7 separate regions of the Homo sapiens genome follow, and all the other regions are linked to region 1. The links come from fine-mapping of genetic effects on gene expression. A gene starts in region 1. Each other region holds a variant in brackets. All regions are shown on one strand. Distances are from middle to middle. Region 1 holds the start of PRDM8 (PR/SET domain 8). Region 2 has its middle 48 kb from the start of PCAT4. Region 3 has its middle 42 kb from the start of ANTXR2. Region 4 has its middle 24 kb from the start of PRDM8-AS1. Region 5 overlaps PCAT4 (prostate cancer associated transcript 4). Region 6 overlaps ANTXR2 (ANTXR cell adhesion molecule 2). Region 7 has its middle 37 kb from the start of PRDM8-AS1.

The links. PIP is the estimated chance that this variant, and not a neighbour inherited with it, causes the effect.
Region 2: its variant is the best candidate, but not a certain one, in a credible set for the expression of PRDM8 in thyroid (GTEx, PIP 0.52).
Region 3: its variant is the best candidate, but not a certain one, in a credible set for the expression of PRDM8 in whole blood (TOPMed, PIP 0.72).
Region 4: its variant is the best candidate, but not a certain one, in a credible set for the expression of PRDM8 in blood mononuclear cells (TOPMed, PIP 0.70).
Region 5: its variant is the best candidate, but not a certain one, in a credible set for the expression of PRDM8 in left ventricle (GTEx, PIP 0.63).
Region 6: its variant is the best candidate, but not a certain one, in a credible set for the expression of PRDM8 in whole blood (INTERVAL, PIP 0.54).
Region 7: its variant is the best candidate, but not a certain one, in a credible set for the expression of PRDM8 in lung (TOPMed, PIP 0.56).

Annotation. Positions count from the first base shown.
Region 1 is chr4:80,195,910-80,199,979 of GRCh38, forward strand. It overlaps PRDM8 (PR/SET domain 8), which reads left to right and starts at 1,594. Exons shown (of 4, transcript NM_001099403.2): 1 at 1,594-1,854. PRDM8-AS1 (PRDM8 antisense RNA 1) reads right to left here and starts at 1,435. Exons shown (of 6, transcript NR_183912.1): 1 at 1,219-1,435; 2 at 918-1,079. RefSeq lists enhancers at 204-821, 822-1,437.
Region 2 is chr4:79,873,228-79,877,297 of GRCh38, forward strand. No RefSeq gene overlaps it. Among named protein-coding and RNA genes, the nearest start is that of PCAT4, 48 kb to the left of the region's middle. The variant C/G (reference allele first, on the strand shown) is at 2,292.
Region 3 is chr4:80,113,441-80,117,510 of GRCh38, forward strand. No RefSeq gene overlaps it. Among named protein-coding and RNA genes, the nearest start is that of ANTXR2, 42 kb to the left of the region's middle. The variant G/A (reference allele first, on the strand shown) is at 2,018.
Region 4 is chr4:80,171,751-80,175,820 of GRCh38, forward strand. No RefSeq gene overlaps it. Among named protein-coding and RNA genes, the nearest start is that of PRDM8-AS1, 24 kb to the right of the region's middle. The variant G/C (reference allele first, on the strand shown) is at 1,894.
Region 5 is chr4:79,850,497-79,854,566 of GRCh38, forward strand. All of the region lies in intron 1 of PCAT4 (prostate cancer associated transcript 4), which reads left to right. Among named protein-coding and RNA genes, the nearest start is that of PCAT4, 25 kb to the left of the region's middle. The variant G/A (reference allele first, on the strand shown) is at 2,454.
Region 6 is chr4:79,934,368-79,938,437 of GRCh38, forward strand. All of the region lies in intron 16 of ANTXR2 (ANTXR cell adhesion molecule 2), which reads right to left. Among named protein-coding and RNA genes, the nearest start is that of PCAT4, 110 kb to the left of the region's middle. RefSeq lists an enhancer at 3,630-4,070. The variant C/A (reference allele first, on the strand shown) is at 2,523.
Region 7 is chr4:80,158,287-80,162,356 of GRCh38, forward strand. It overlaps the pseudogene RPSAP39. Among named protein-coding and RNA genes, the nearest start is that of PRDM8-AS1, 37 kb to the right of the region's middle. The variant C/T (reference allele first, on the strand shown) is at 1,615.

The sequences.
Region 1 (4,070 bases):
CACACACACACACACACACAGAGAGAGAGAGAGAGAGAGAGAGAGAGAGAACAAGGAAGAACATGAACTTCATGGGAAAGTCCTTGCACTTGTTTCTCCTCAGCAAAATCCTCCCCTGGCCTCCTGGGACTGCAGTCACCAGGCTGTCAAAGCCTCAATACCCCACTGAGTTCCAGAGAAGGGTCTCAAAGCTGGGAGAGGATCAAACTAACATGGTAAGCTGCTCTTTGCCAACTCCCCAAATACATTATTTCAACACTAGGAAAAACAACAACGAGGCTGTCTCCTTACGTTGTGGTTCTGCCTCCTCCACTTTAGCTAGCTACACAATCCGATTTATCCTAATGCTGACAGATTGCCCACTTCAAAGTAGTGGTGGTGTGTGTGGGGCTGAAGGAGTTGAGAAACTGTCTATACCACTCAAAGGCCTTTCTTCCTTTAGGAGTAGAGAATTGAACTGTGAAAAAGAAGCCCGAGATTCCCCAGCGACGTGGTGTTGCAGCCCCGTTGAAGGAGTCAACTTGCAGGCTGTTAAAGACCTCAAGTCATTAGCATCAGCTGCTGCACTAAAGGGGCAAGTCAGCGCCTCTAAGTGGCTTAGCGCACAAACGAGGCTCCCGAGACGGCCTCGGCAACTCCATCCCCTCCTCCACCACCCGCTGGATGTGAAAAGCTTTCCGGAGCCCATCTTGGTAATCATTTTTATTTTTAATCACCCTTGCCCCCCAACCCCAAGACCTCAGAGTGCCAACAGTACCCATTATAGACTCCCTCTGGGGCTGCGCAGAACGCACCAAGCAGAGGGGGGGAAAAACCCCACGAAAACAAAAACAAACAAAAAAAAAACAGGAACTGTTTGAGTCCAGTAACCTGCGCTCTTCCCACCAACCTCCCACACCCCACCTCCGCCCACGTACCCGTGTCCTGGGACTAGGAGGTACCGTTATGTCCCCTTCCGAGGTCTGGTGACATTCTCACTCCAACCTCATCTCCCAAGCCACGGGAAGGCTGAGCCAAGTTCTCACCAAAGCGCATCCTTTCTGAATTTTGCAGGGGGAAGCTTGGTAGTGTTGGCGCTCCTGAAGAGAGACGACGCCCGTTTATCACCCCCAGGCAACTAGCTGCGCAAATCAGCGGTGGCTCCAGGGCTAGAGAATCCCTGGAGCTAACCGCACCCCTCTCCCTTTCACGGAACGCGGACTCCGGGGAAATACGCACGGGGTCCGCACGCGCTGGGTGTCCAGCTCTCTGTCACAGCTTCTCCAAGTGCCTAGTGAAACGGGGAAAGGCCCTCTCCAATCATTTTGGTACCTTCCTTTCCAATCCTGAAACGATTTTCCCCTCCTAGCAGTCCCAGAGGGCCCGAGCTTTAGGAGGAGGCGGGCCGGGACGCTCTCTGAGAGGCGTTGCCACCCGGGGTAGGCGCTCAGGATCTGCGGGGCGCGGGCAGGCCGGGGGAAAAAGCTGCGAGGCAGGCGGCGCCGGAGGGAGCGCCTGGCCCAGCAAAGAGTTAAAGGGAGGGGACGTGGGCTGTCACGCGTCATTGGGCAGATTATGTGCAGCAAACAAAAAGTGTGTGTCTGCGTGCCAGTCAGTCACTGCATCGGGTCCATCTGTACAACTCTCTCCGTTTCTCCGTCTCTCTCCCTCCCTCCCTCCCTCCACCCCCCCAATCTTTTTCTCCCCATCTCTCCATCTCTCTCTTATCTCTTCAGGAAGAGCCTAAAAGGCGGCAACACCAACACCTCTTGACATGGAAATACACTGATACAATAGGCAAAAGGAAACACTCGATTGCATCTTCCCGGTTCCAGGTGGCCTTATTTGGGAGATTCTATACTGACCTTATTCCTGGTAAGTCTATTTGCATTGATGTGGGAGGGGGATGGGAGGAAGACAGTTTGGTGGAAAGAGTAGAACATTTTGTCTTCCGTCTCCTTATTATCCAGAAGAGAGAGAAAAATAATTCTTGAGGGGCTGTCTACTGCCAGTAATATTGTACAAAAGGAGGAGCGGGTGGTGAGCACTTTGCCGGAGAAGCCGGAGACTGGGGAGCGCGCGGCCGCCAGACAATGCCTGCCTAGAGGGACGGGCCAGTGGCGGGCAGCAGCGACCGGCTTTCAGAAAGCCCCGCCGGCTCTGGGGTATATTCCCAGGGCAGGCGGATAAGAACCTGGGCCTAGAGCGGGGCACGGAGCTGTGAAACGTTGCGTGGCAAAGGCGACCGCACGCGGGCGGGCGCTCCTAGGCTCTTGCCCAGCGGTTATTGTGATGGGCTTGAGGCTCGTGGCGCCTGGCGCTGCGACTCCGACCGCTATTAGCGCGGCGTAGTGAGGACCTTTTTGCCGTATTGTTAGGTAGAACTGCATTTTAATGACTGTGTCCCTGCTGTTGCCCGAAGTGACGGGGCGACCTCCCGGCACAATGAAATGCTTGTGTGAAAGAGATTTTTAAAAGGAAGAGAGAAATTGGGGAATAAAACGCTGAATTGAAGGAAATTGAAAAGAGGAGAATAGGATTCCGTTGAAAAGGAGATAAGAGGTTATGGGGTTTTTAAAATGTATTTTAATTTGAAATGAAAAAATCAGGATGTCTACCTTGTATGGGGTAAAAATGACCAGGGATAGATGATGCAGAATAAAAAAGTTTCTACTTTATGGATATTTTCCCTTATTTCTGCTGTCTGGGAGATACAGCCCAACACTTGACATTTGGGGGATGCAAGAGGATGAATGGAAAATGAGGCTAACCAAAGTTTTAGGCTATGTTAGCTGGAATGGGGGGAAAAAAGCACACCTTGTAATCACACGTGTAAGGTTAACTGGTTAATATAAATTAAAATAAAAATAGATGTCACTGACATTATTCCATAATGAACAGCTTTGCAGGAAAAGAATTAGATCTACTCTTTCCTGCTACTTTAATTATATAAAACATACATAAATAATTGCCAACAGTGACATTATTAGGGAACAACAAACTTGGAGGAATATTTTGATTAGTCTGAAATACTAAGCAATGCAGCTAGTTCAAAGCTAGTTTAAAAATTTAAATACCTGGGTTTTTTTGGGTTTTTTTTTTTTTGTTTTTTTTTTTTTTTTTTTTTTTTAGTGATAAGTCTTGTATGGGGTGTCCAGAGGAAGGAAAATGTCCCTTTATGACACCTTAATAAAGGGCATTGGGGCATTACTTTCTAAATTGCTGCGGATTAAACAGCTGGGGAGCCCACTGAGGAGTGCTCAAGCAGGGCTGCCCCCTCTTGCCCAAAAAGGGTCATATGGGGTAGGGGGAGTGAAAATTTACCAGTCATTACACACAGTATTTCAGACTGGGGACACTTTAGGCCTGTCCTGTACCTGCTCACTTCATGAGCCACATGTGACTCAATCCACCCCCTTGTATAACAAGGTAACCGGGATTCACTCTCATCCATAAATAAGCACGTCCAGAAAAAAAAATTACCTCTGCTTGCTGCTTTTAATTAAAGCCTCAGAGGAACAGTGTTGGATTATGGTAATGAGCAGACATACGTCCCTTCTTGTAGGCTGCAGAGAAAGGTTAGCTGACACAGAATTAGTGGCCCTGACATTCCACTTGAAATCCATTCGCCATGCTCCGCTGTCTCCGCCTGCTCACTAACGCTGTTCCCCTCCTTGGAAGAAAAGAAAAAAATCAGCTCCCGGGCACCCAGTTCAATACATAGGCAGACAGGCACTTTCCCCCAAGGGTTAGAAGTTTCTTTCAGTAAGGGAAGTCTATAGGCTGGTTTAAAAAATTATATATATGTATATATATATATATGTGTGTGTGTGTGTGTGTGTGTGTGTGTACATATATATATAATTCTGCCTGGAACTTCACCTCTAAAACCTACCCAATCCAACATCAAGGTAATGCAAAAATTATCTAGTCTTTCCTAGCCCTTTCTTTTCTTTCTCCCAAGCAGTCAGCTCCAGATCTCCCACTATTCTAATTATTTTAACAAGTATCCCTTAGTTTTCATCTTTAAAATATGCCATGTTTATCTGCTTTAATTTTGAAATAAGAGCTATGCAAAAATCAGGCATGTG
Region 2 (4,070 bases), 320 kb before region 1:
TCCATAAGCAACTGTATCTTAGGAACAGAAATTTTAATTGACTGAAACCCACTGTGTGAAACTTAGAATGGAAATTGGGTTCTCCACCTCCGCAGCACCTTTATTTTGGGCTATGAAGCTTTGGAAGGACAGCAGGGAATACAAACTGGCTATGGGTTGTCTTCTATATTATTCATTTATGTACCAAAAAAAAAAAAAAAGGCAGAAGAAGAAAAAAAGAAAAACAAAAACCTTCCCAGTTCCAAGGGAGTCAGACAAAAGGTAAGAGCACTGCTAGAGAGGAGACTTGTTCTTGTTGGCTTGTGAAGTAAAGAGACCTTTTCTATATTTTGTAATAAAAGCAAGAGCAATTGTGATCTGTCATCTCCAGGAAGTTTGTCACCTGTGAGATTTTTATTAGCCATCTTTACAGTGTTATTCAATTCTATGTATAGATCTCTTTGAGGGCAGGGACTGTGTCCTCTTCATTCCCCAAACCGGCACAGTGCCTGTCGTTTGTAGGTTCTCAATAAATATTTGTGAAATGAATATCAGATGAATGAGTGAAATGATGAACCCACAGTTCTATATATTTCAAAACCTCAAAATATGTAGGCACAGTATATTATAGTATAGAAAGGATAAAATGTTTTGCAGGAAAAGAACTAAGAAATCAACAGACTCATTGTCCTGATTTTTAAAAATAAGAGAAATGAGGCTTCCAGAAAGTTAAAATGTTATATTGACTAGAAAAGGAGTAATGAAATCCCAAGATTTTGAAAAATATATACACAGTATGTGTGAATTCCACATTGTTTCAATGATATCTGCACTACCTGGCTCTCTCTTGACTTCCAACTCATTTCTGGGTTCTCCCCATGTACATTTATTTTCTCAAAAAATGCAAACTACTTTAGAATTAGCTTAAGTAAAACCTTATTAGGTAAATCATATGCTGGAATGGATTCCAAAGATACATTTAAAAACTCCTTTCATACAGCAATTTCTTAAGACTGATGGTATTATAGTCAATGAGCCACCTTGTTTGAACTGTCTAGGTCAGACTAAAGAAGAACCAAATTTAGAAGATTTCCAAATGAATTTAGTGGTGATGTGGTGATGTTATAAATTAGCCAGGCAATCAGATGTAAAATGCTAAGTTTAGATAACCATCACCATATGTCAAGCAGACAGTGATTACCGGGCAATGTGCATAGGAGAAAGCAGAAGGAGTGGTAGGCCCAATTCTTCATTGTGTAGTCTCCATGTGCACAGCAGCAGCCTCACAAGAAGAGGAACAGTGGTCACTTTGTAGTGTCACTTGAGGGGTCTTCACCCTAAACCATCTTCCCAAATAACTTCCTCAGATGCCGGAAATTTTATTTCAACACAAATAGCCCTGGAAGAAATTCTATGCTGATTGTCTTTTAGGTAGAAAGACTCACAGCCGTGGCAGTAGATAAGGGTTCTAATATAGGTGTCATTACCACTTTCTAGCTGCACAATCTAGGGCAAGTTAACCAACACTTTCAACCTTAGTGCTTTGGATGTTTCTAAATCCATAAAATAGAGATTTGAAGTCCTACCTCTCAAAGTCCTCTCAAAGTCATTGCAAGGCTTACACTAGACACCATATGCAAAGGGTTACAAAGTTGGTGCTTAAGGAAAAGAAAGGGGCATGAGTGGGGAGATGACAATTAGCTTAGCTTGATGGTCAAGCCTCCCATGATTAGATTATCAAATTCAAATCTTGAATTCTGTGTAATTTTGCACAAGCAACGTACCTTCTCTGTGCCTTTGTTTCTTCATCTGTAAATAAGGAATAATAATGGTACATATACCGAAACTTATTATATAAGGTCAGTAATATCATAGTGGTAATGTGCTAATATTTGGGCTCAGTAAATTGAGCCCTTAACAGCAGAAATGCAGCAGGTATGAGTATTTCAGGAGACAAAGAGGAAGCATACCCAAAACACAGGGAGATATAAAGGGGCCTTAAAAAGAAATGTAAATGGATATCAAGAAGATAGTGCTTATTCAAATATTTATCCAGGTCTGTGTAGGCCTCATCTTTCTTTATTTTCCTGCATCTCTCTAAAAACGCTATAAACTATTCAGTCTGTTGTCTTGGACTTATTCATTGTAATCTGTTAGGTTTGATTTTGAATTTATAACTAGTATTCAACCACTGGCCTGTATTTACAATTAACAAGTAAAGCATAAAAGAATTGCATCCCCACCCTTCCCAGAGAGACTATAAAGCCGAACAGCCCTTCCCTTAACAATGAGGCTAAACAGATGAGGCTTGC[C/G]CTATGGCCTAAAGTTTAGCATTCCCAGGCTGCACCAGAAAAACAACAGAAATGAGCTCCAAAACCGAAGATTCCCCACCCTTCTAGCAGATTTCAAACTTTAGGCCTAACGAAGGCAATGTGTTCTACCAATGGGGGTAGTCATGCCTCATCACAGATTTCAGTCTTAAGGTCAGAATTTTCTGACAGTTATTGGGTAATTGTTTGGACTGAAAAAGTAAGAAGTATCCAGTCATTGAGCTAGGTCCATGCTCCTGGTAGAGTGAAATACTGTTGTTATTCGAGTCCAATCCTCTGTGTCTGGGCCCAACATGGGCTCCCAAGTGAGTCAGATTAAATTACAGACTTCAATTCTGAGCCCTTTAGTATTTCAGTCAGACTATAAGGCATAATTACTCCTTATTTTTGCTTATTTTTGCATTTCCCCCTTTATGCTCCTCATCACATTGTACTAGTAAATGTATTTTTTATTTATATATCTTATGAATAGTAAAATGTACAGAGCTTACATGTAAAAGTTTTAAGAATTCTAACAAATGGAACATCTGTGTAACCAACACTAAATCAAGGTATAGATTTCCTTTACCATTGAAAGATCTCTTTCCAATCAATACTTCCTAACCCTCATCACTCCCTAAAACTTTTTTTTAGTTTTTATCCCTATAGATTAGTTTTTATTCCTATAGATTAGTTTTTATTATGCTTGAACTTCTTATAAATACAATGATACCATCTGTGTTTTTATGCCTATTTTCATCTGTTCAGCATATTTTTGTTATTCATCTATGATGTTGAATGTATCAGGAGTTTTATTACTGAGTAATTTTCCATCAAGTGAATATAATACAACTTGGTGTCTATGCTTCTGTTGATGGACATTTGATTGCTTCCCGTTATTGGCCATTGTGAAAAAAGCTACTGTGGGAACGTGTGCACAAATTTTTAGTGGACTCTTGTTTTCAATGTTGGGTAAATACCTAGGAGTGAAATTGATGAACTATAGAGTAAGTATATGTTTATCTTTATTAGGATCTACTAAAATGTTTTTCAAAGCTATTTTAGATACCTCATATAAGCCAGTCATTTTTATTTGAACAATTCTAGTGGGTGTATGGTGGTACCTCTTTCTTGTTTTAAATCATGTTTCCCTGATGACTAATGATGCTGAGCATCTTCTCATGTGCTTATTGACCATTCATATATCTTTTTTGTGAAGTATTCATTTACTTGCTTTTGTGGATCATATTGCATTATTTTGTATCATAATTGTAATGCATATTGTACTATATTGTATTAGGTTGGTGCAAAATTAATTGCTGTTTTTGTCATTACTTTCAACAGCAAAAACTGCAATTAATTTTGTACTAACCTAATGTATTCAATTGTATTGTATATTTAATTAACAATTAATACATTATCTTATACATGTTTGTCCTGTCTAAAAACTCTGTGCCCACCCCCAGGCCATGATGATATTTCCCTGTTGTTATTTCTATAAGCTTTGTAGTTTCACATTTTACAGTTAGGTCTATGATTATCTCTGATTCACTTTTTGTGTATGCTGTGAGGCAGGAGTCAAAGTTGCTCCAACACCCTTCATCAAAAATATTGTCTTCCCTCGTGAGTTTATTTTTCAATTCCATGCTTCCTCAATTGTGAGCTCCTTTGTGGTACATCTATGATTGATTTATCCTTATAATCTTAGAGTACAGCATAGTGTCTCTGTTACATGGGAGCGTCGTAAATGGACACTGAATGAATACATTTTCTACGAGCTGA
Region 3 (4,070 bases), 82 kb before region 1:
GCAAGAGAGAGCTTCAGACGATGATGCTGAAGACACATTCCCTGCCAGACCAGCCAAAAGACCTGGAGCAAAGATTGTACATTGCAAGGGTCTCACATTGGATAGCAATGGCTAATCCCTTACACTACTGCCTTTTTCAGCCACTGACTAGAGTCACCTCTTCAAAGCAGAAGCTAATCCTTATGAAGCTAAAAGCTGAAGATTACCAGCTAGCCACCCGCCTTGGGTCTTGGCGGGAAGTTCTTTCTTTTTTATTTTATAATTTTTTAGAAAATACAGATGGGTTTTTGCTATGTTGACCAGGCTGGTCTTAAACTCCTGACCTCAAGTGATTCTCTTATCTCAGCATCCCAAAGTGTTGGGATTTCAGGCATGAGTCACCACAACTGGCCAGCAAATTATTTCTTTATTTTAAAATTTTTTGAGGTAAAACATCCATATAAAATGCACCATATTTGCCATTTTTAAGTGTACAGTTCAGTGGTGCTCTTAAAACAGTCTTTAAATGTAAGAATACATTTATATTCTTTCCTTTTCCCTTCATCCCGCTTCCTGCTACCCTTCCCACCCTCTGGTAACCACAAGTCTACTTTCTATCTTAATGAGATCCACTTTTTTAGCTCCCACATATAAGTGACAACATGTGATGTTTGTCTTTCTGTGCCCGGCTTATTTCATTTAATAAAATGACATCCAGTTCTATCCATGTAACTGCAAGTGATAGCATTGTATTTTTTTATGGCTAAATAATATTCAATTGTGTATATATGCCACATTTTCTTTATCCATTCATTCACTAATGAGCACTTAGGCTGATTCCATATCTGGGCTACTGTGAATAGTGTTGCAGTAAACATAACAGTGCAGATATCTCTTCGATATATTGATTTCCTTTCCTTTGGATATATATCAAGTGGTAGAATTGCAGGATCATATGGTAGCTCTATTTTTAGTTTTTGGGAGGAACCACCACACTGTTCTCCATAGTGGTTGTACTAATTTACATTCCCACCAACAGTGTATGAGGGTTCAACTTTCTCTACATCCTCTCCAGCATCTGTTAATACCTGTCTTTGATACAAGCCATTTTAATTCTAATGAGATGATATCATCGTGGCTTTGATTTGCACTTTTCTGATGATTAGTGATATTGAGAATTTTTCATATATCTGTTGGCCAGTTTTATGTATTCTTTTGAGAAATGTCCATTCAGATATTTTGCCCTTTGTTTAATTGGATTATTTGTTTTTTTGCTATTGAATTGTTTGGACTCCTTATAAATTCTGCGTATTAATCCTTTGTGAGAAGGATAGTTTGCAAATGTTTTCTTCCATTTAGCAGGTTGTCCTTCCACTTTGTTGATTGTTTCTTTTGCTGTGAAGAAGCTTTTTAGCCTGATTTGATCTCATTTGTCTATTTTTGCTTTGGTTGCTTGTGCTTTTGAGGTCCTTCACAAAAGTTATTTGCCTAGGCCAGTGTCCCAGAGGATTTCTCAATGTTTTCTTCTAGCAGTGTCATAGTTTCAGCTCTTAGCTTTAAGTCTTATATCCATTTTGATTTGACTTTTTTGTGTGGTGAGGGAGATAGGGTGTAGTTTCATTCCTCTGCATATAGTTATCTAGTTTTTCTAGCACCATTTATTGAAATGACTCTCCTTTACCCATTGCATGTTCTTGGCACCTTTGTTGCAAATGAGTTGGCTGCAATGCATGAATTCATATCTAGTTTCTCTATTATGTTCTATTGGTCTATGTATCTGTTTATATAACATTACCATGCTGTTTTGGTTACTACAGATTTGAAGTAAATTTGGATGTCAGGTGGTGTCATATTTTCATATTTCCAGCTCAATTCTCTTTGTGCAAGGTTGCCTTGGCTATTCAGTCTTGTGGTTCCATATATTTTAGGATTTTAAGGGGCCAAGATGAGATCTCCAACAAATGTGTCTACAACTTAGGCAAGGCAGAAGTTCTGCACATACCCCTTGGAAGGGTGGTAGAATCCAGGGAGCCAAGCA[G/A]CATTGTTCTGCAGGCCCCACTTCCACAGCACTTCAAAAGATAAGACACACTGCCTTGGAATTCCAACCAGCCACCAGCAACAGGGTGGAGACTGCCTGAGACCTAATGGAGCCACAGGGGGGAGGGGCAGGCACCATCTTTGCTCTTTGGTCAACTCAGCTGTTCCAGCCTGTGGGCTTTGGAAAGTCCAAATAGTCCAGATGAGGAAAGTGCAGCACAGCAGCTTTGCCAGATTTTGGCCAGACTGCGTCTTAAAGCAGGCCCAATCCATTCCTCCTCACTGGACAGGGCCTCCCAGTCAGGCCCTCCAGCCACCCCCCCACACACATATTACAGATAGAGCTCTGATCTCTCCCAGGGATGGAGTGCCCAGGAGAGGGGGAAGGGCCACTGCCTGAGTTGGTTGTACGACTATGTCTCAGCCATTCCAACCGACAGGCATTGGAGAGTCCAAGCCGACACAGGCAGAGGCGGTTCTCCAGCATGACAGAGTTGTTGTGTCAAGATGTGGTCAGACTGCTTCTTTAAGTAGGACCATAATCCGCTACTCCTTGTGGCGGGTCCTCCCAGCTGGGTCTTCCCAGCCAGGGCCTCTGGCCACCCCTGCCTGTGTTCTAGGGGGCCAAAAAAGCTCTAATTTCTCCCTGGGACAGAGTACCGGAGAAGCAAGGCAGGCCACCAACTTGGCTGTTCAGGCTTCTCAGCCCACTCAGCCTGTGGGCCCTGGAGAGCCCAAACCAATTGAGGGCTGAACGTTATCCTCAACACAGCACAGCTGCTCTACCAAAAAGCAGCCAGACTACTTCTTTAAGCAAATCCCTGATCTCATTCCTCCTGAATGGATGAGACCTCCCAACTGAGGTCTCCAGCCACCTCCTACAGGAGCATTGGGGCGGGAAATAGGTCTGTAACCCCCGGGACAGAGCTTTCATAGGAAGGAGCAGGCTGCCATCTTTGCTGTTTCACAGCCTTCACTGGTGATACCTCCATGTACAGGAAAAACTGAGGCAATTAGGGACTACAGCGGATCCCCAGCAAACTACAGCAGCCCTATGGGAGAGTGGCCTGACTATAAAAAGAAAAACAAACAAACAGAAAACAGCAACAACAACAAAACTCAACAAAAAACCCCATCCAAAGGTCAGCAACCTCAAAGATCAAAGGTAGATAAGCCCACAAAGATGAGAGAGAATCAATGCAAAAATGCTGGAATACAAAAAGCCAGAGTTCCCCTTTTCCTCCAAATGACCACAACACCTCTCCAGCATGTGCTCAGAACCGGGGTAAGGGTGAGATGACCAAATTGAGAGAAGTAGGCTTCAGAAGGCAGGTAATAACAAACTTCACTGAGCTAAAGAAGCATGTTATAACCCAGTGCAAGAAAGCTAAATAGAGGAGCTGACAGCCAAAATGGCCAGTCTACAGAGAAGCATAACCAACCTGTTAGAGCTGAAAAACACACTACAAGAACTTCACAATAAAATCACAGGTATTAATAGCATAATAAAACAAGCAGAAGAAAGAATTTCAGGTCTTGAAGACTATCTATCCGAAATAAGACAGGCAGACAAGAATAGGAGAAAGAGAATGAAAAGGAACGAACAAAACTTCTGAGAAATATGGGATGATGTAAAGACACCAAATCTAAGACTGATTGGGGTACCTGAAAGAAATGGGGAGAATGGAACCAAGTTGGAAAACATACTTCAGGATATCATTCAGCAGAACTTCTCCAACCTAACAAGAGGGCCAACATTCAAATTCAGGAAATCCAGAGAACCCCAGTAAGATAATCCATGAGAAGATCAACCCCAAGACACATAATCATCAGATTCTCCAAGGTCAAAATGAAAGGAACAATGTTAAGGGCAGCCAGAGAGAAAGGCCATGTCACCTGCAAAGGGAAGTCCATCAGATTAACAGCAGAAACCCTACAAGCTAGAAGAGATTGGAGGCCAAAATTCACATTCTTAAAGAAAAGAATTTTCAAAACGGAATTTTATATTCAACAAAAGTAAGCTTCACAAGTGAAAGAGAAATAAGATTCTTTTC
Region 4 (4,070 bases), 24 kb before region 1:
GATGAAATCATAGGTGTATCCAAAATGTTCTTCATGTGCTGAGTCAGTTTCAGGGTAGGGGGTCACAGGATTGGTTAAGTCAGTTCCCTGGTATGAGTCACAGATCCAGGTGGCATCAACTGGTCAGCCAAAGTGCAAAAGTCTGAAAAATACCTCAAAGACCAATATTGGGTTTTGACAATACCGTTGGTATCTATAAGAGCAATTAAAGAACTTACAAATCTTGTCATCTTCGGAACTGTGGCTGGTTATCATTTAACTACATCTACATCTTACCAGAATTCATTCCCCACTCATAATCCTAAGCTTTTGGCCTTTCATTAGTCCTACAAAGGTGGTTTCAGTCCCCAGAGGGGGTCAGTTTTTGGGGGAGACTATTATCCTTTATTTAAAGTTAAACTATAAGCTAAATTCCTTCCACAATTAGCTTCGCCTACACCCAGGAATGAGCAAACACAGTTAGCTTGTTAAGTTAGAAGTATGGCAGTGTCAGCTAGGTTACATTTCTCTCACTGTCATAATTTTTGCAAAGGTAGTTTCATTCTCAATGCACCACACCCAAGGTAGAACTTCCTTTTTACAAGAAAGTGTTGGGTGGGAGAAGGAAGCTTCCTCCTCCCAGTTGTATTCACCTAAGACTTAGCCTTAGCAACAGACAGCTACGGGCAGGACCAAAAAAGCTCAAGTTATGTCCTATTGCAATGAAAGCCCTGCAGCTGACACCTAAGGAATATAAAGAGTCATATTCTTGGCTGCAGCGTCTGGAGTAGAGTCTCTGCCTCACTGAGCTGGGAGGGGCAAGGAAAGTAGTAGTTTCAGTTCAAATGTCACAGACTCACCTCTCTTGACAGATATTCATAATTTCCTCTAATAGGTATTTCTTTATTTACCATTTGCCCTTAGGACCATTTCCAGAGAATTTAAGTGGTTGTTTCTTTACACACAATTTTCACCAGTTTCACTGAGGAGTGGCTCAGCAGAGTTTCCCACACTGCCATTCTAGAAGTCAATCTATTTCACTTGTATTTATTGTTCAGCTATATATGTTACTTACAAGACTCTTCTTTGCTTTCCACTCCTAATTTTCTGTTTTCCTATAGCTAACTCTGTCTCTCTCCTTTGAAACACTGACTTCCAACTTTATATCAGTCCTCTCAAGTTTTCAAACTCTTAGTTTCTATGAGATTTAGAAATCGGGCTTTTGTTTGTGCTGATGTTTACAGTGAATATTCAAGACTCTGATATTGGCTATAATTTTTTTTTAGAGTTAAAGTCTTCCTTTGTTGCTCAGGCTGGATTGCAGTGGCACAATTTTAACTTACTGTGGCCTTGAACTCCCAGGCTCATGCAATTCTCCCACCTCAGCTTCCTCAGTAGCTGGGACTACAGGAACGTGCCACCACAATCAGATAATTTGATTTATTTATTTATTGCAGAGACAGAATATTGCTATGTTGCCCAACCTGATCCTGAGCTCTTGGTCGCAAGTTATCCTCCCAGCTCAGTCTCCTAAAGCACTGAGATTGCAGGCATGAGCCATGACAACCGGCCTTGAGTATAATTTTAATCTAAGGCTTCAGGAAAGAGAGCATGCTTCTCCACCACTGTCCTCTTCCATTTTTTTGTCTGTGGGTTAGTTCAGGTTCAGGAGGAAGAGACAGGGATGGCAAAGTTGGAAAGAGAAAATGTTACTTCATTCTAAAATCTACACAGTTTGTGAATTCAAGGGAAGCCATTAGTAGGAGTTCCTATTGCTGTGCAGCTGATTTGTTTTGAGGTAGTCACCCTTTGTTGAAGCCTGGCTGGCTTCCTTGAAAACAATCAGCAAGTGACTAACCAGGCATAGTAAGACTGGTGCTGACACAGGAAACCACCAAATGATGAGAGACCTGG[G/C]GATGCCCAAAGGAAGTCAATAAAAGCATACTCTCAAATTCTTCCAGATTTTGGCTTGCAAAGCCTCCCAAGACTTCTGGAAATCCTTCCTAAATGCTACTAGGAATGTTCCAGCCAAAGGGCTCTGAGAAATGATTCTTTAAAATCTTGGATGCTTAAGTTTACAAAACCCAGTAAGTTTTTACTTCCAGTTGAAACTGTGCATGAAAAAGATGTTTTCAGAAAGAGTTCTCAGATAATTCTATTTGTGAATAATAGTAGTAATGTAATGGTTATTCTCCATTTGTCTCTCCAAAATCCATTCTCTGTCCTCTCCTGGCTCTATATTGCCAGAGGCTGACTCATGCAGATTCGTTAGCATGCTCCAGAACCTTGCTGGTTAGTTAGCTTCCGGTTGAGTTAGGCCATTGGAAGGCATTAACATGAAATTGGAGCATGTGAGAAAAGAAAAGATGAGTTATTTCTTCCCTGTCCTCTCCTTGCTACACCATTGTCTCTGTGTCAGTAGCTGTTTCTGTAGGTCTCACACTGGGCCCTTCTTCCAAGGTTCTGGTCCTTAGCAGACTGTAGAAACACTAATTCCTCTCCTAAAATCTTCTTGTTATGCTGGTTTCTGTGTCCCTCACTCTCTCGTTTGTTCTCATCACCTGGTCCACATCTTTGTAGCACTCCCTTACCTGAGGATGGGGCAATTATTTCCAAGACCACCAGTGGATGGCTAAAATCACAGATAATACCAAATGCTGTATATACTATGTTTTCTCTGATACATACATACCTCTGAAAATAATTGATTTATAAATTAGACACTGCAAGAGATGAACAATAAGATAAAATAGAACACATATAACAATATACTGTGCACTCCCCTATATATACACATGTACATATATTATATATATACATATAAAGGGGAATTTGTTAAGTATTAACTTACACAATCACAAGGTGTCACAATAGGCTGTCTGCAAGCTGAGGAGCCAGGAGAGCTAGTCCAAGTCCCAAAACTGAAGAATTTTGAGTCTGATGATAGAGGGCAGGAACCATCCAGCATGGGAGAAAGATGTAGGCTGGGAGGCTGGGCCAGTCTCTCCTTTTCACATTTTTCTGCTTCCTTTATATTTGCTGGCAGCTGATTAGATTGTGCCCACCAGATTAAGGGTGGATCTGCTTTCCCCAGCCCACTGACTCAAATGTTAATCTCTACTGGCAACACCCTCACAGACACACCCAGGATCAATACTTTGTATCCTTCAATCCAGTCAAGTTGACACTCAGTATTAACTATCACAACTCCACCCCTTGTCAACTTGAACCCATATATATCTCCTGAGATCATACATAATCTTCAAATAAAGACAATAATAAGGTCATAATTACACTTAAAATAATACAACTATCTTTCGTACAACCGGAAATGCACCAATACCCCCATCCAAATACTATTACATAAAGTTAACAATACTTAAATGCTGATATGAAGTCAATTAATCTTATGTCACATGATAAAGGAAAAGGAAATAAAATGAGGATAATTTCTCAGTACAAGTGTATACATGCACAAACATGTTTTTAACAAAAGAAGGAGGAAATACTCATGACAGTTACAGTCCTCATTTCTGCAGCTGGTCAAGTGGTCATAGCTGGTATTTATGACTACCTTCTCCTACTGCCCATTCTGTATTCCCTTTACCTTCAGCAAGCACCTCAGCAGGTCATGTTTTTTTTCCTGGTGGAGTGACCCAAACCTTCCTTCCTGAGGGGTCTGGACCATTTGTAGTTCTGCCTGGATTGGGCTGTTGTACTTTCCCATTGACCTTAATCACAGGGCATGGTAATACTAAGAGACACCCTAATGGATCACCTGTATTCCGTGCATATTCTTTCCTTACCTCCGTTGTGGAGTAGTAGACTGATTTCATCTTGATAGTCTGGATCAATAACCCCAGCCAACACTATAACTCCCTTCTTAGTCTGTTGACTTAAAGGTAAGAGGACCCCAAAGTGTTCAGATGGAAATCTTAACTTCTAGTTTAATGGAATTGTTGTTGTGTCTCCTGGTGGCAGCGTTCCTCCCTCTGGAACTAAGACCTTTAGGTCTGCAGAACGTGAGGTTATGGGAACAGGAAGCAAAACTTTTGCTAGTGGATAACTAGAGGTGATGGTGAGTGGTGCCA
Region 5 (4,070 bases), 350 kb before region 1:
AAAATAGAAAAAATATGTAAACAAGTGACTATTAGGGAATCTAAGGTCATGGTAAGCCAAAGTAAAAGAATTTCTGGAACATGAAAATATTAATCATGTTGATGCAGTATACTTCTACACAGGGATGTGGGAAACTTTCCTTGTTTATTACATCAGGAGTTGGCCCAATTAAGTTATGTTTGAAACCTTTAGAAAAGTACCTAATGAGGGCATTTAATTCTCATTATTTCTAATTCTAAGCCTGGAAATTATCATAATATCTAGATCTAAAGAGTTCAAAACATGATGTATCCAAGTCTGGAAAGATTTCAATCTGACCCTCCCATTTATGTCATCGGGATGCGTGCAAGAAGAGCCAAAGACAATGCTTGGCTGCCCTTTACACAAAGGGAAGTCTCCCTGCTATGGAAGATAGACACTGACACATGTCATTTCTGATTTTAAAACACTTTCCACTCATCTCTGAGCATTTCTCAAAAAGCTTGAGAATCTGGTGCCGTAAAACATAGCAAACAAGATGAATTCAGAATTCACAAACATTGTTTTCAACTTCCTCTGCTTGGCATATTTTTTTGAGCATTTCACAGTGGGATACACGCTTCCAGGTTTTCTTTGAATAAACAAATTTTAAAACCTCAAAACTCTGTGTTGACATTAGTTTTAAAGGTTAGATGAAGTATATGATTGCAAATATGATTGCAAATAACAAACTTTAGTTATTGAGATTTTCAGATTTGTCACAATTCAAATATTTTATCATGCCTGAAAGTTAAAACTGAACATTTTTAGAGTTTGAGATAAGTTTTCCAAAAGCTCCCCATTATCTATAACTCCCTTACTAACTAAATTTGAAGGGTGCTGACATTTTTTGTTTTCTCAAATTAGATAGTAGTGATAACTGTGAAATTAATAACAGAAGTTAAATGCTATCATAAACATAAAACTTATTTTAAAATTAGTGTGTCCTTGACCCACTAGAAGAGAGGCTATCATTATTTAAATGATATTCATTTGAATGAATTATGATGATGATAAAGATTATTATAGGTAGCACTTACTGAGGACTTTCTATGTCACAAGCACTTTGCTAAGTATTTTACATATATTATTCTATTTAATTCTCAAACAACTGTGTGAAGTAGATTCTGATATCATCTCTATTTTGTAGGTGTGATGACTCAGGCACAGAGAGATTAAAAATTTTCACAATAACACCCAGCTTGTGAATTATAAAGCAGCAATGAAATTCATTTAAAGAGCCAAAATAGAGGGGAAAAATTGCCTCATGTATCTCTGAGATATGTGTTAGTCATTGGTTATTTCAATATAGAGGAATAAGATAAAATTACATGATAACAACTGAAACATACTTTCATTTTGTATTACGGATACATCAACAGTTCTAAAGGATCATTTTTTTAAAAAATGAGATTTTAAAAAAATGAGTGACAATGTGAAGAGTGACACTGAACCATTGAAAGAACCCTTAAAATATGGATTTCAATGATTAAAACACAATGGGAATGTATGTATTTTCTCAGGACTTTATGCCCTATTGTTGTATCAAGAGTATCTGTTCTTAGGCTTTGGTAAACATGTGTGTCATCACATAACCAAATGCTAAAACATATACAAAACTTTAAGCCTTGTTTACAAAAGTTTTTTGCCCTGCAATGTGGTCACATCACTCAAACTTGCATTTTGTTGTTGTTTTTCTTTCTCCTCACACTGACATTGTGTTTGATAAAAGTAACCTCAGGATCCTTAAGTTTACTTGGTAAAAAGAGGATTTCTAGACCCTCTATAGAATCCTTGGGGATTTTTTCAGCCATCCCTTCCCAGCTGTTCCCTCTCCACATGGCTGTGTTCCGAGAAAATGATGCAAGGCTGTGAAATGGGGCTATGCTTGGGATCCAGCTGACAGGAAGGCATGCCGGGAAGGTCACAGCAACTTCCATGTAAACAGAGCTGTGGTTTGCCTGGCTCTAAGTTAACAGGATAAGAGGTTCTCCTCACAGAAGGGGGCACACAGACAAACAGCACCCAGCATGTTCTGTTCCAGATGTTCTTCCTGTCATTTATGGCATATGAGGAGGTGCCTTTGATGTTTCCCTCCTTTCTTGTCAGTATGATTCCACGAGCTTCATTATAAATTATTTTACCAAGGGATGAGTCGTATTGTATTATAATCAGAGCAGGCCCTGAGCACAATTACAAACCAAACCAGATTCATCCACTGAAGCCTCTTCCCTTTTGACGTTTTCAATCATCATCTTTTCCTTTTCTATTAGATTTTGAATATCCTTAAGTGGCACTCATCTGATGTTAAAGTGTCACGCCTTGTGCCATGCCTCAGCCTGATGTTCCTCATGACAGTGTTCTAAATCTTATCCCAACCAAAATTCACTTGTGCATTGCCCCTTCCTCCTTGTTCTATCATCACAAAATCTGTG[G/A]TATTTAATTGGTATGTAGTTTCAATAAGAACTGATGAGCTGACTAGGTTCAAATGTTGGGAAGGCCATCTAGAAATTATCGATTATGCCAAAAAGCAAAGCTAAGAGAGAGACTTCCAAGCCATACTTGATACTGGAGAAGACTGTATTTGCAACTATTTCAAGTTTCTGCTATTCCTTGGCCATCAATGCCTTCTTCACATTGTGGTTATGTCATTATATATTTTCACTCCTGTAGGAGAAGACTTAAAACATTTTTTTAAAATTCTTAAGTTATTGTCTCTTTATTGCACTGCAATTTTGTCTGTTGCTTAGAATTTGTGATGGAAAGAAATTCCCAGCACCTTGTAATCCAGGTCTTAGCCTTTCCAGTCTATCCAGATTGCTCAGTTAAACCCCAGCTATAAGCCTACCTCCAACTTTTTCTTTACCAAAATAAAAAACTAAATAAGGGCTGGTAAGGGTAAAGGGATTACTGAAAAGAGAAACAAATCCTATTCCCTTCAAAATTCTTGGACTTTTTTAAAGTATGATTTTAATTAATAATCTGACTGGCTCTAAGGTAGTGTTCTACATTAGCCAGAGATTATCAGTTATTTTTATGGAAAAAAAATTATTAGGCTCAGTATCTTAGCCCAGGGGAAAAAGTATAGAACCTGGAGTCAGAAAAAAAAAAAAGATATTTAATTCTCAGCTTTGCCACTTTCATCTATGTGGGCTTGATCCTGTTAGTTACCTCTATAGGTCTCAGTTTTCCTGCTGGTAAAACAGGTAAAATAAAATCTACTCATCAGGATTGCTACAAAATTAAAATAAATTCTATGATATGTTACACATAAGGATCTTTGTTTATTAGCACATACTTAATTTTAAAAAAAGAAACACAGAAAAGAGAAAATAAACAATAAACAACCAGGCTGAAACAAATATATGGCCTTAAATGTTCTCTGGTGAATGGCATGTCTTACAGTGTGCATCCCCTTTAGGGCTGTATGATCCATCAAGAATAAAAGACCGTCACTCTGATGTAATATTCGAAAACTTCTGTGATCCAATCTCTAGCCTCTTTCCTGCCTCTTCTTCCAAAGCTTTATTCTTTCACTCTAAAGTTGTGTCATTCACACTAAACTGCCTTGATTTGCTGAATTCCCCTGCCAAATCACATCTCATTACTTTTCCATAAGCCAGTCCTTCTACCTAGAAAATATTTTTCCATCTTAATCTCCTGAAGAAGAAGCTAAGACCCAACTTCTTTCTGAAGCTTTATCTTCCTTCCCAACTCACACATGCACACGCGCGCACACACACACACACACACACACTAAATACATATACACTGCCTCACTCTTTCATTTGTGCCCATGCTATACCACAAAGATTCTAAAATTGAGGTTAAGCCTGTGTGGATTGCATGAATGACCTGCAGGAAATCTAAACCCTCTTGCGATTGTATGTAATATTTTCTTGGTGAGTACCAGTGCACATTTTGTTTTTCCTGGAAATAGGATTTGCAGCTGTGATCATATTCTCAGTAGGGTCTCTGATCCAAGAGAATGTAAAAGCCACTGTCACACCTTTACAATGGAAATCATTACTGTATGGCAATAATGCTTGCTG
Region 6 (4,070 bases), 260 kb before region 1:
AATACAAAAATTAGCCGGGCATGGTTGGATATGACTGTAATCCCAGCTACTTGGGAGGCTGAGGCATGGGAATCGTTTGAACCTGGGAGGCAGAGGTTGCAATGAGCCAAGATCATGCCACTATACTCCAGCCTGGGTGACTGAGCAAGACCCTGTCTAAAACAACAACAACAACAAAAAAAAAAAAACACCAAACCTATCATTTAAGACTCTTTTGACTCTTTCACCTTATTTTCATCATTTATAAAATATGGAAAGTAATAGCAGCTTACCAGAGGGTTACCAGGAGAATTATGTGAATGTGCATGAAGCTTAATGCCTGATATATGATAAACACTAAGGAAACGCCATGCATTGCTACTATTTCTGTCTAAGAGATCTGAACTGGAAAATAGTTTAATACATAGACTTGTTTTAAATAAAACTTTAAAATAGATGTTAGGACAAAAAACTCCTCCAAGTAGTCAAGTTTCAAAAAAAAAAAAAAAACTGTCTACTCAGCAGTTCTTTCATGAAGGATACACACTAGTCATTGGAAAGAGACCTTGTCTGCTTTCAGGAACTGACTTTGGGCCTTCTGTTAAGAAAACTGGGAGGGATAGCATTAGGAGATATACCTAATGTTAAATGACAAGTTGATGGGTGCAGCACACCAACATGGCACATGTATACATATGTAACTAACCTGCACGTTGTGCCCATGTACCCTAAAACTTAAAGTATAAAAAAAAAAAACAACTGAATAATGCTGGCCTTTGCTAAGAAATTTGATAGGTTTGTAACACGCCCTTAAAATTAAAGTATATGACCTCTACAAAGGTGGAGAGTTTAAAAATTACATGTCATCGCCCCCCAACTTTTTTTTTTTAAAGCACTACCATTGACCAATTAGAAAAAGCACCCTTTCCTCCAGGCTGGATTTCAGCAGTCCCCCCACCCCCACCCTCTCCATTACTCCCTCATTTTCCACCTTTATGCAGGTTATAATTTGCTCAACTATAAACAGCATTCTTGAAATTATTTAAAGCCTGTGGGGGTATATCATGGATCACAATACGAAAATAAATTAGTGACAAAGAGTTGGGGCCAGACTGTCTAGAGAAACATACTGAACATCAAAAGAGGAGCTCAAAGGCCAGCTGAACTGGAAAAAAAAAAGGGAGCCATAAAACTGGAGAAAATGCCAGAAGGAGCTTTAACTAGGGTGAAGCCTGAGTCAAAACATTAAGAAGAAGAAGCAAAGTGCAAGATAGTACACTGACATTTATTAATATAATTGCCTGGCTAAGGCATGTGGGATAGTGAGAAGAAAGTCTTATTTATTTTGGATACAGCTATTGCAATGTGAAGAAATTTTAAAACACTTTTATACTTGAATCAAAGGACTTGGAAATCTAAGATGAATTAGCAATGGTTAGCTCTGCCCATTTGTGTGTACGTTGTTGGCTACTTGTGTTTGGAAGGAACACTGATATTTCACATTCATTGCAATAAAATATAGTAAATTTCTATTGTGGTCCAGCTGTTGCATAGCTTTGTTAAAGAGTGACACTTAGGCTAATGTACTCTAAGGAAATGACTCCGCTCCCAGTGGAATCTCTCTTCTGAAACAATAAATGCCTGTTCCAACAAAAGAGCACCTTAAACTATGATTCCATTCCAAAGTTGTAAAAAAATGGAATTAATTAGGATTTAGCAAGTGTACAACCTCTAGCCAGGAGTCATATATTCTAATTTTGAGATATTATTCATAGTTCTCAATGCAGAGAGTTACTACACATTATTTTTACTATCAGTACAATACCACTTTTTAAAAGGGTTCAGATGTTTTAATCACTATTACACAAGTACTACAAATGATATAATTAGTTGCATTCTTATTTGCAGAATATTTAATTGATCTCTATTCAGATAAATTTTTAAATGACAAAATGCTATTTAACTGTCTTATTTTCAGACCTCCTGTCATCAGAGCTTAGCTACTCTCTTTCAAAACCATTACTATTCTCCTTCACAACCTAGCACTAAAACTGGTTGCACTGCATTAGAACTCTGCTTAGGTACTTCCTATGCAAGTTTTCTCCTTCATCTCACAACCAAAACCTAAATGAACAATCAAAACATTCTCACATTTTTCTAATTCTCCAAAAGTTTCCTTTTCTTTCAAGGTAATTTATGTCCTCATAAAAGCTTAGGTATAATTCCTGATGGGAGAAATTAGTGAAATATTTCAACAGTATTCAAGTTGGTCTCAGGGACTGGGAAATAATGCAAAAGAAATAAAAAAAATCCTTTATTAAACGTAAAAGGGAAGAAGAAAAGACTAACACATGAAATAATTAGAAAACAATTAATTTAAAAATTACTGCACAATATTTAAACTAATTCACTTTAAGTTCTGATTATTAATTGCACTATGGGTTATAATCACCTTTTTTGTGCTTATAATCATTCCCACCTAGTACAATGGTACTACACTAGTAGTACCACACTAAAGGTACTACACTCTACCACTGTACTAA[C/A]CAATGGTAAAAACTACACTTATATTTTCTATTTTTTTCTATCACTTGTATAATGCTAGGCAGAAAGTCAGCAAGCAATGGATAATTGATTATGTATTCATTCAATCATTTTAAAGCATTTTTCATTTTAATCTTTGTTGCAAAGAAGAAAAATGTATTAATAATTTTTACTTTTAATAAATACATTAGCATTAACTTTATACAGTTTTAAAACACTCATAAACTTAATTAAGCTTTTAATTCAGTTATAAATAGGACTCATTCACTGTATTCTCAACAGTAGCATTAAAAAAACCAGGTGCCTATTTCATATTCTTAATGAAGCAATTGCTAGCAATAGGAAAACCTCAAAAGATTCACATTTGGCTCAACTAAGTTCCTTGAAAATTAATTACATATAATCATTTAAAACAGCACAAAATTGAGCAGAAGAAAAAAAATTTTTGGAAGAATGTTTGTAATATCCATAAATGTTTAGGCTAGTTTGGCTGGTTTCTGATTAACTGCATTTGGACATATCTTCATTGAAAGTTTCACTGTAACATACTCACAGAAAGCTTTTTATCTGCAAGTGACTTTTTGTGCCACTTGCTTGGGCCACTTTTTCCCAACTCTAATTTGCAATTTGTATCTACCCTGAGAGAGGTACTGTCTATCAGGGTATATAGTACCATACTCAAACAGATTTGTTCCGTTATCTAAACTAGAAATAAATAAATCATAAAATGTTATGTGTCACTAACAAGGTAACAACTTGAATGCTTATGTATATATTGAGCATCAATTATGTACCCAGCACTGTGATAGTGTTTTTAAAACCCCCTAAGAGAGGAGCCAAGATGGCCGAATAGGAACAGCTCCGGTCTACAGCTCCCAGCGTGAGCGACGCAGAAGACGGTGATTTCTGCATTTCCATCTGAGGTACCGGGTTCATCTCACTAGGGAGTGCCAGACAGTGGGCGCAGGCCAGTGTGTGTGCGCACCGTGCACGAGCCGAAGCAGGGCGAGGCATTGCCTCACCTGGGAAGCGCAAGGGGTCAGGGAGTTCCCTTTCCGAGTCAAAGAAAGGGGTGACGGTCGCACCTGGAAAATCGGGTCACTCCCACCCGAATATTGCGCTTTTCAGACCGGCTTAAGAAACGGCGCACCACGAGACTATATCCCACACCTGGCTCGGAGGGTCCTACGCCCACGGAATCTCGCTGATTGCTAGCACAGCAGTCTGAGATCAAACTGCAAGGCGGCAACGAGGCTGGGGGAGGGGCGCCCGCCATTGCCCAGGCTTGCTTAGGTAAACAAAGCAGCCGGGAAGCTCGAACTGGGTGGAGCCCACCACAGCTCAAGGAGGCCTGCCTGCCTCTGTAGGCTCCACCTCTGGGGGCAGGGCACAGACAAACAAAAAGACAGCAGTAACCTCTGCAGACTTAAGTGTCCCTGTCTGACAGCTTTGAAGAGAGCAGTGGTTCTCCCAGCACGCAGCTGGAGATCTGAGAACGGGCAGACAGACTGCCTCCTCAAGTGGGTCCCTGACTCCTGACCCCCGAGCAG
Region 7 (4,070 bases), 38 kb before region 1:
TGTGCCATCTGAAATTGTGGCAGTTCCTCAGGCCTCTGTTCCACATGCACGGTCTCCTCTAAAGGAATAATAAAGAGAGTTATTATTCCTTCTGCTTAAGTGGGAGCACATGTTTGCAGTTGCAGTTTCCTGCCAGTGTAGTTCTGGAAGCTCAATATCTTTCTCTCATGTTGTCCTTTCTCTATTCCTTTCAGTCCAAGCTAGGAGTGTTCCTGCTGATATGACATTCTCAATAAATTTGTGGATCTCCTGTGTATGTCACAAGGGTCTATGGCATTAGACAAGAGAGTCCTCCATAGATCTTTCCTGGATAACCCCATCTCTATCCCTGGCTTCCACTGAGATGGCTGAGTGGATCCATTAATCACACACCTAAGTGCATCAATAAAAGTTTATCCAACCATTTCCTTGGCGTCTTCTACATTGCACACTTTCCTGACAGTGACTTTCCTCATTTTAGCAGGCTTTACAATCTGGATAGACCAATAACCTCCTGATTTATCAAGTGCAAATTCCTTTTTGCTTAACTTTCTTACTTTATTTCTTTCCTACTGCTTTTTACTAAGCAGGAAAAAAAATAGGCCGCACCTTCAATGCTTTATTTGGAAATCATTTTAGCTACCCATCAAATTTTATTGTTTCTAATCTCTGTTTTCTCCTCAACTACAGAAGACAATACAGCCAAGTTTTCTGCCACTATATAACAATTCCTCAGTTATGTATAAAGTGTTTTCAATCTCGATAACATGTTCCTCATTTCCTGACTCCTTAACAGAATTGCCTGTAACATTCCGATTTCTACCCACAGTCTCTTCAAGGCAATCTAGGGTGTTTTGTTTTGTTTTTTATTATGTACCCTAATTTCCTCCAGCCTCTACCCATTAACCAATTGTTATATAATCACACTAATTATGACCTCTGAATATTGGCGCCTAGGTTGTTTACTTCTTCACAGCAGGCAAGGACCCATTAATTTATAAGCATAATAGGGCCAAACTCAAATTTTCGTATATCTCATTGTTTTAAATATTCCACAAATAAGCATATTTTAGATGTTTAGAGCCTGTTTGCTTTGCATGCCTCATGGAAGTGCACACAGCATCTGCTAGCCATAGGATAAACTCCAAATCTGTAAAGATCCCAAACTGCTGCTATGCTCTGGAACCCTCTCACCTAGAGAATCTCTTGTGGGCTACTTAGAGTGACATCATGTAGACACATAAGTTCTGTCTCCTAAGCCCTCTCCCACAGAAGTACTCTGTCTTCTTTCCCTTCAGAGTGGTGGCCCCCACACCATAGCCTCTGGACAGTCTCATGCAGTGAGAGACTTCTAATATACAAATCTGTCAAGGCATTGTCCTGATAAAGCCTGCATGTGGTACTGCCACCCCATGCCCATATCTTTTATCACCCCATAAATATCTTGAATTTCCCACAAGTGGCAATGAGAATAGGATATCCACTTCCATATTTTTAGACATTTGTTGCCACCTTCCAGTACTACAGTGTTTTGTTTAGAATGTTGCTTTAAATAAAAACAACAGTGTGTAACTTCTTCAGATTATCTTCTTTCACTCAGCTTAATTCTTTTGAGATGCATCCAAGAATTGTATA[C/T]GAGACCAGTTTCTTTCTTTTTCTTGCTGAGTAGAAAGTATTCCATTATATGTATATACCGAAGTGGTTTATCAATTCATCCACTGAGGATGTTATGCTGGTTTTCAGTTTTTAGAAATTACAAATACAGCTGCTGTGAATGTTAGTTAATAAGATTTTGTGAATATGTTTCATTTCTCTAGGGTAAATACCAAAAATATGGGATTGCTTGGTTATGTAAGTGTATGTTTAACTTTTTTTTAAATTGCTAACCTATTCCAGACTTCCTGAACCATGATCTAATCACCTCCCACCAGTCCTGACCTCCAACAGTCAGGATCACAATTCAACATGAGATTTGGGTGGGAACACAGAACCAAACCATATCACTAGGTATGATCCATTCTGGGAAAAAATAGTTGTCTTTCTATGGACATGTAAAACAAGAAAGCAAGTTATCTGAATCCAAAACACAATGGTGGGACAGGCACAGACATTAAATATAGACAGTATAAACTTTTTCATTCCAAAAGGGAAAAATTGGAAGGGATAAAGAGTCACCAGTTCCAATTAATTTTGAAGTAGGGGACAATTTTGTTCAGTTTCAAGGCCTGTGTAACTCCCATAAAGAATGTATGAGAGTTAAAATTTCTCTGCATCCTCATCAGCAATAGGTATTTTCAATATTCTTAAATTTAACTATTCAATATTGAAAATTATGTGGTTTCAATTTTCATATCTACAATGATGAAAAATAGTAGATATCCTTTTGTGTGGTTATTTGTATCCATATATCCTCACTGTTGAGTATCTGTTCAAATCATTTACCTATATTTTAATTGAGCTTTTTATTTTCTTACTGTTGAATTTTGAGGGTTCTTTTTCTATTTTGGACAGAAGTCCTTTGTTGGATATATACGTTGAAAATATTTTATCCTAGTACATAGCTTATCTTTTCATTTTCTTAACAGTGTCCTTCCGAGAGCAAAAAGTTTTAAATTTTTATTAAAATCCAATTTATCTTTTTTATAAATGAATAACACTTATGATATCATGTCTGATAACTCTTTGATATCTTGCCTAACCCCAATTCATGTGTTCTTCTAAAAGCTTTATAGTTTTAGGTTTTACATTTAGATCTATTATCTACTTTGCATTAATAGTGATACAGCCTTTCCGCGCTACCTACAGAAGGGTCCATACAGCTTTGTTGTGAATTCCCGTCGTAACTTAAAGGGAAACTTTCACAATGTCTGGAGCCCTTGATGTCCTGCAAATGAAGGAGGATGTCCTTAAATTCCTTGCAGCAGGAACCCACTTACGTGGCGCCAATCTTGACTTCCAAATGGAACAGTACATCTATAAAAGGAAAAGTGATGTGATCTACATCATAAATCTGAAGAGGACCTGGGAGAAGCTTCTGCTGGCAGCTCGTGCCATTGTTGCCATTGAAAACCCTGCTGATGTCAGTGTTATATCCTCCAGGAATACTGGCTAGAGGGCCAAGCTGACGTTTGCTGCTGCCACTGGAGCCACTCCAATTGCTGGCCGCTTCACTCCTGAAACCTTCACTAACCAGATACAGGCAGCCTTCCGGGAGCCATGACTTCCTGTGGTTACTGACCCCAGGACTGACCACCAGCCTCTCACGGAGACATCTTATCTTAACCTACCTACCATTGCTCTGTGTAACACAGATACTCCTCTGCGCTATGTGGACATTGCCATTCCATGCAACAACAAGGGAGCTGACTCAGTGGGTTTGATGTGACGGATACTGGTCCGGGAAGTTCTGCCTATGCGTGGCACCATTTCCCATACACACCCATGGGAGGTCATGCCTGATCTCTACTTCTACAGAGATTCTGTAGATTGAAAAAGAAGAGCAGGCTGCTGCTGAAAACGCTGTGACTAAGGAGGATTTTCAAGGTGAATGGACTGCTCCAGCTCCTGAGTTCACTGCTACTCAGTCTGAGGTTGCAGACTGGTCTAAAGATGTGCAGGTGCACTCTGTGCCTATTCAGCAGTTCCCTACTGAAGACTGGAGCGCTTGGCCTGCCACAAAAGACTGGTCTGCAGCTCCCACCACTCAGGCCACTGAATGCGTAGGAGCAACCACTGAATGGTCTTAAGCTGTTCTTGCACAGGCTCTTAAGCAACATGGAAATAACGTTGACGAAAAATAAATATCAGTTTCTAAAAACAAACAAAAAAAAAGATATAGGTGTAAAGTTTAATTTTTCCTTTTGTTATGTTTTGTTTGCATGTGGGTGTTCAATTGTTCCAACACCATTTATTTTTTCAAAGAAACCAAACCTGTTCTTTCTCTATTTACTTATTTTGCACCTTTGCCAAAAATCAAATAGTTATACCTATATGGATTTACTTCTTGATTGTTTATCCTGTTCCAAGACTACTCTAGACTGATGTATGAGTCTGTTTCTTTGCTAATACCACATTTTCTTGATTATTGTAGT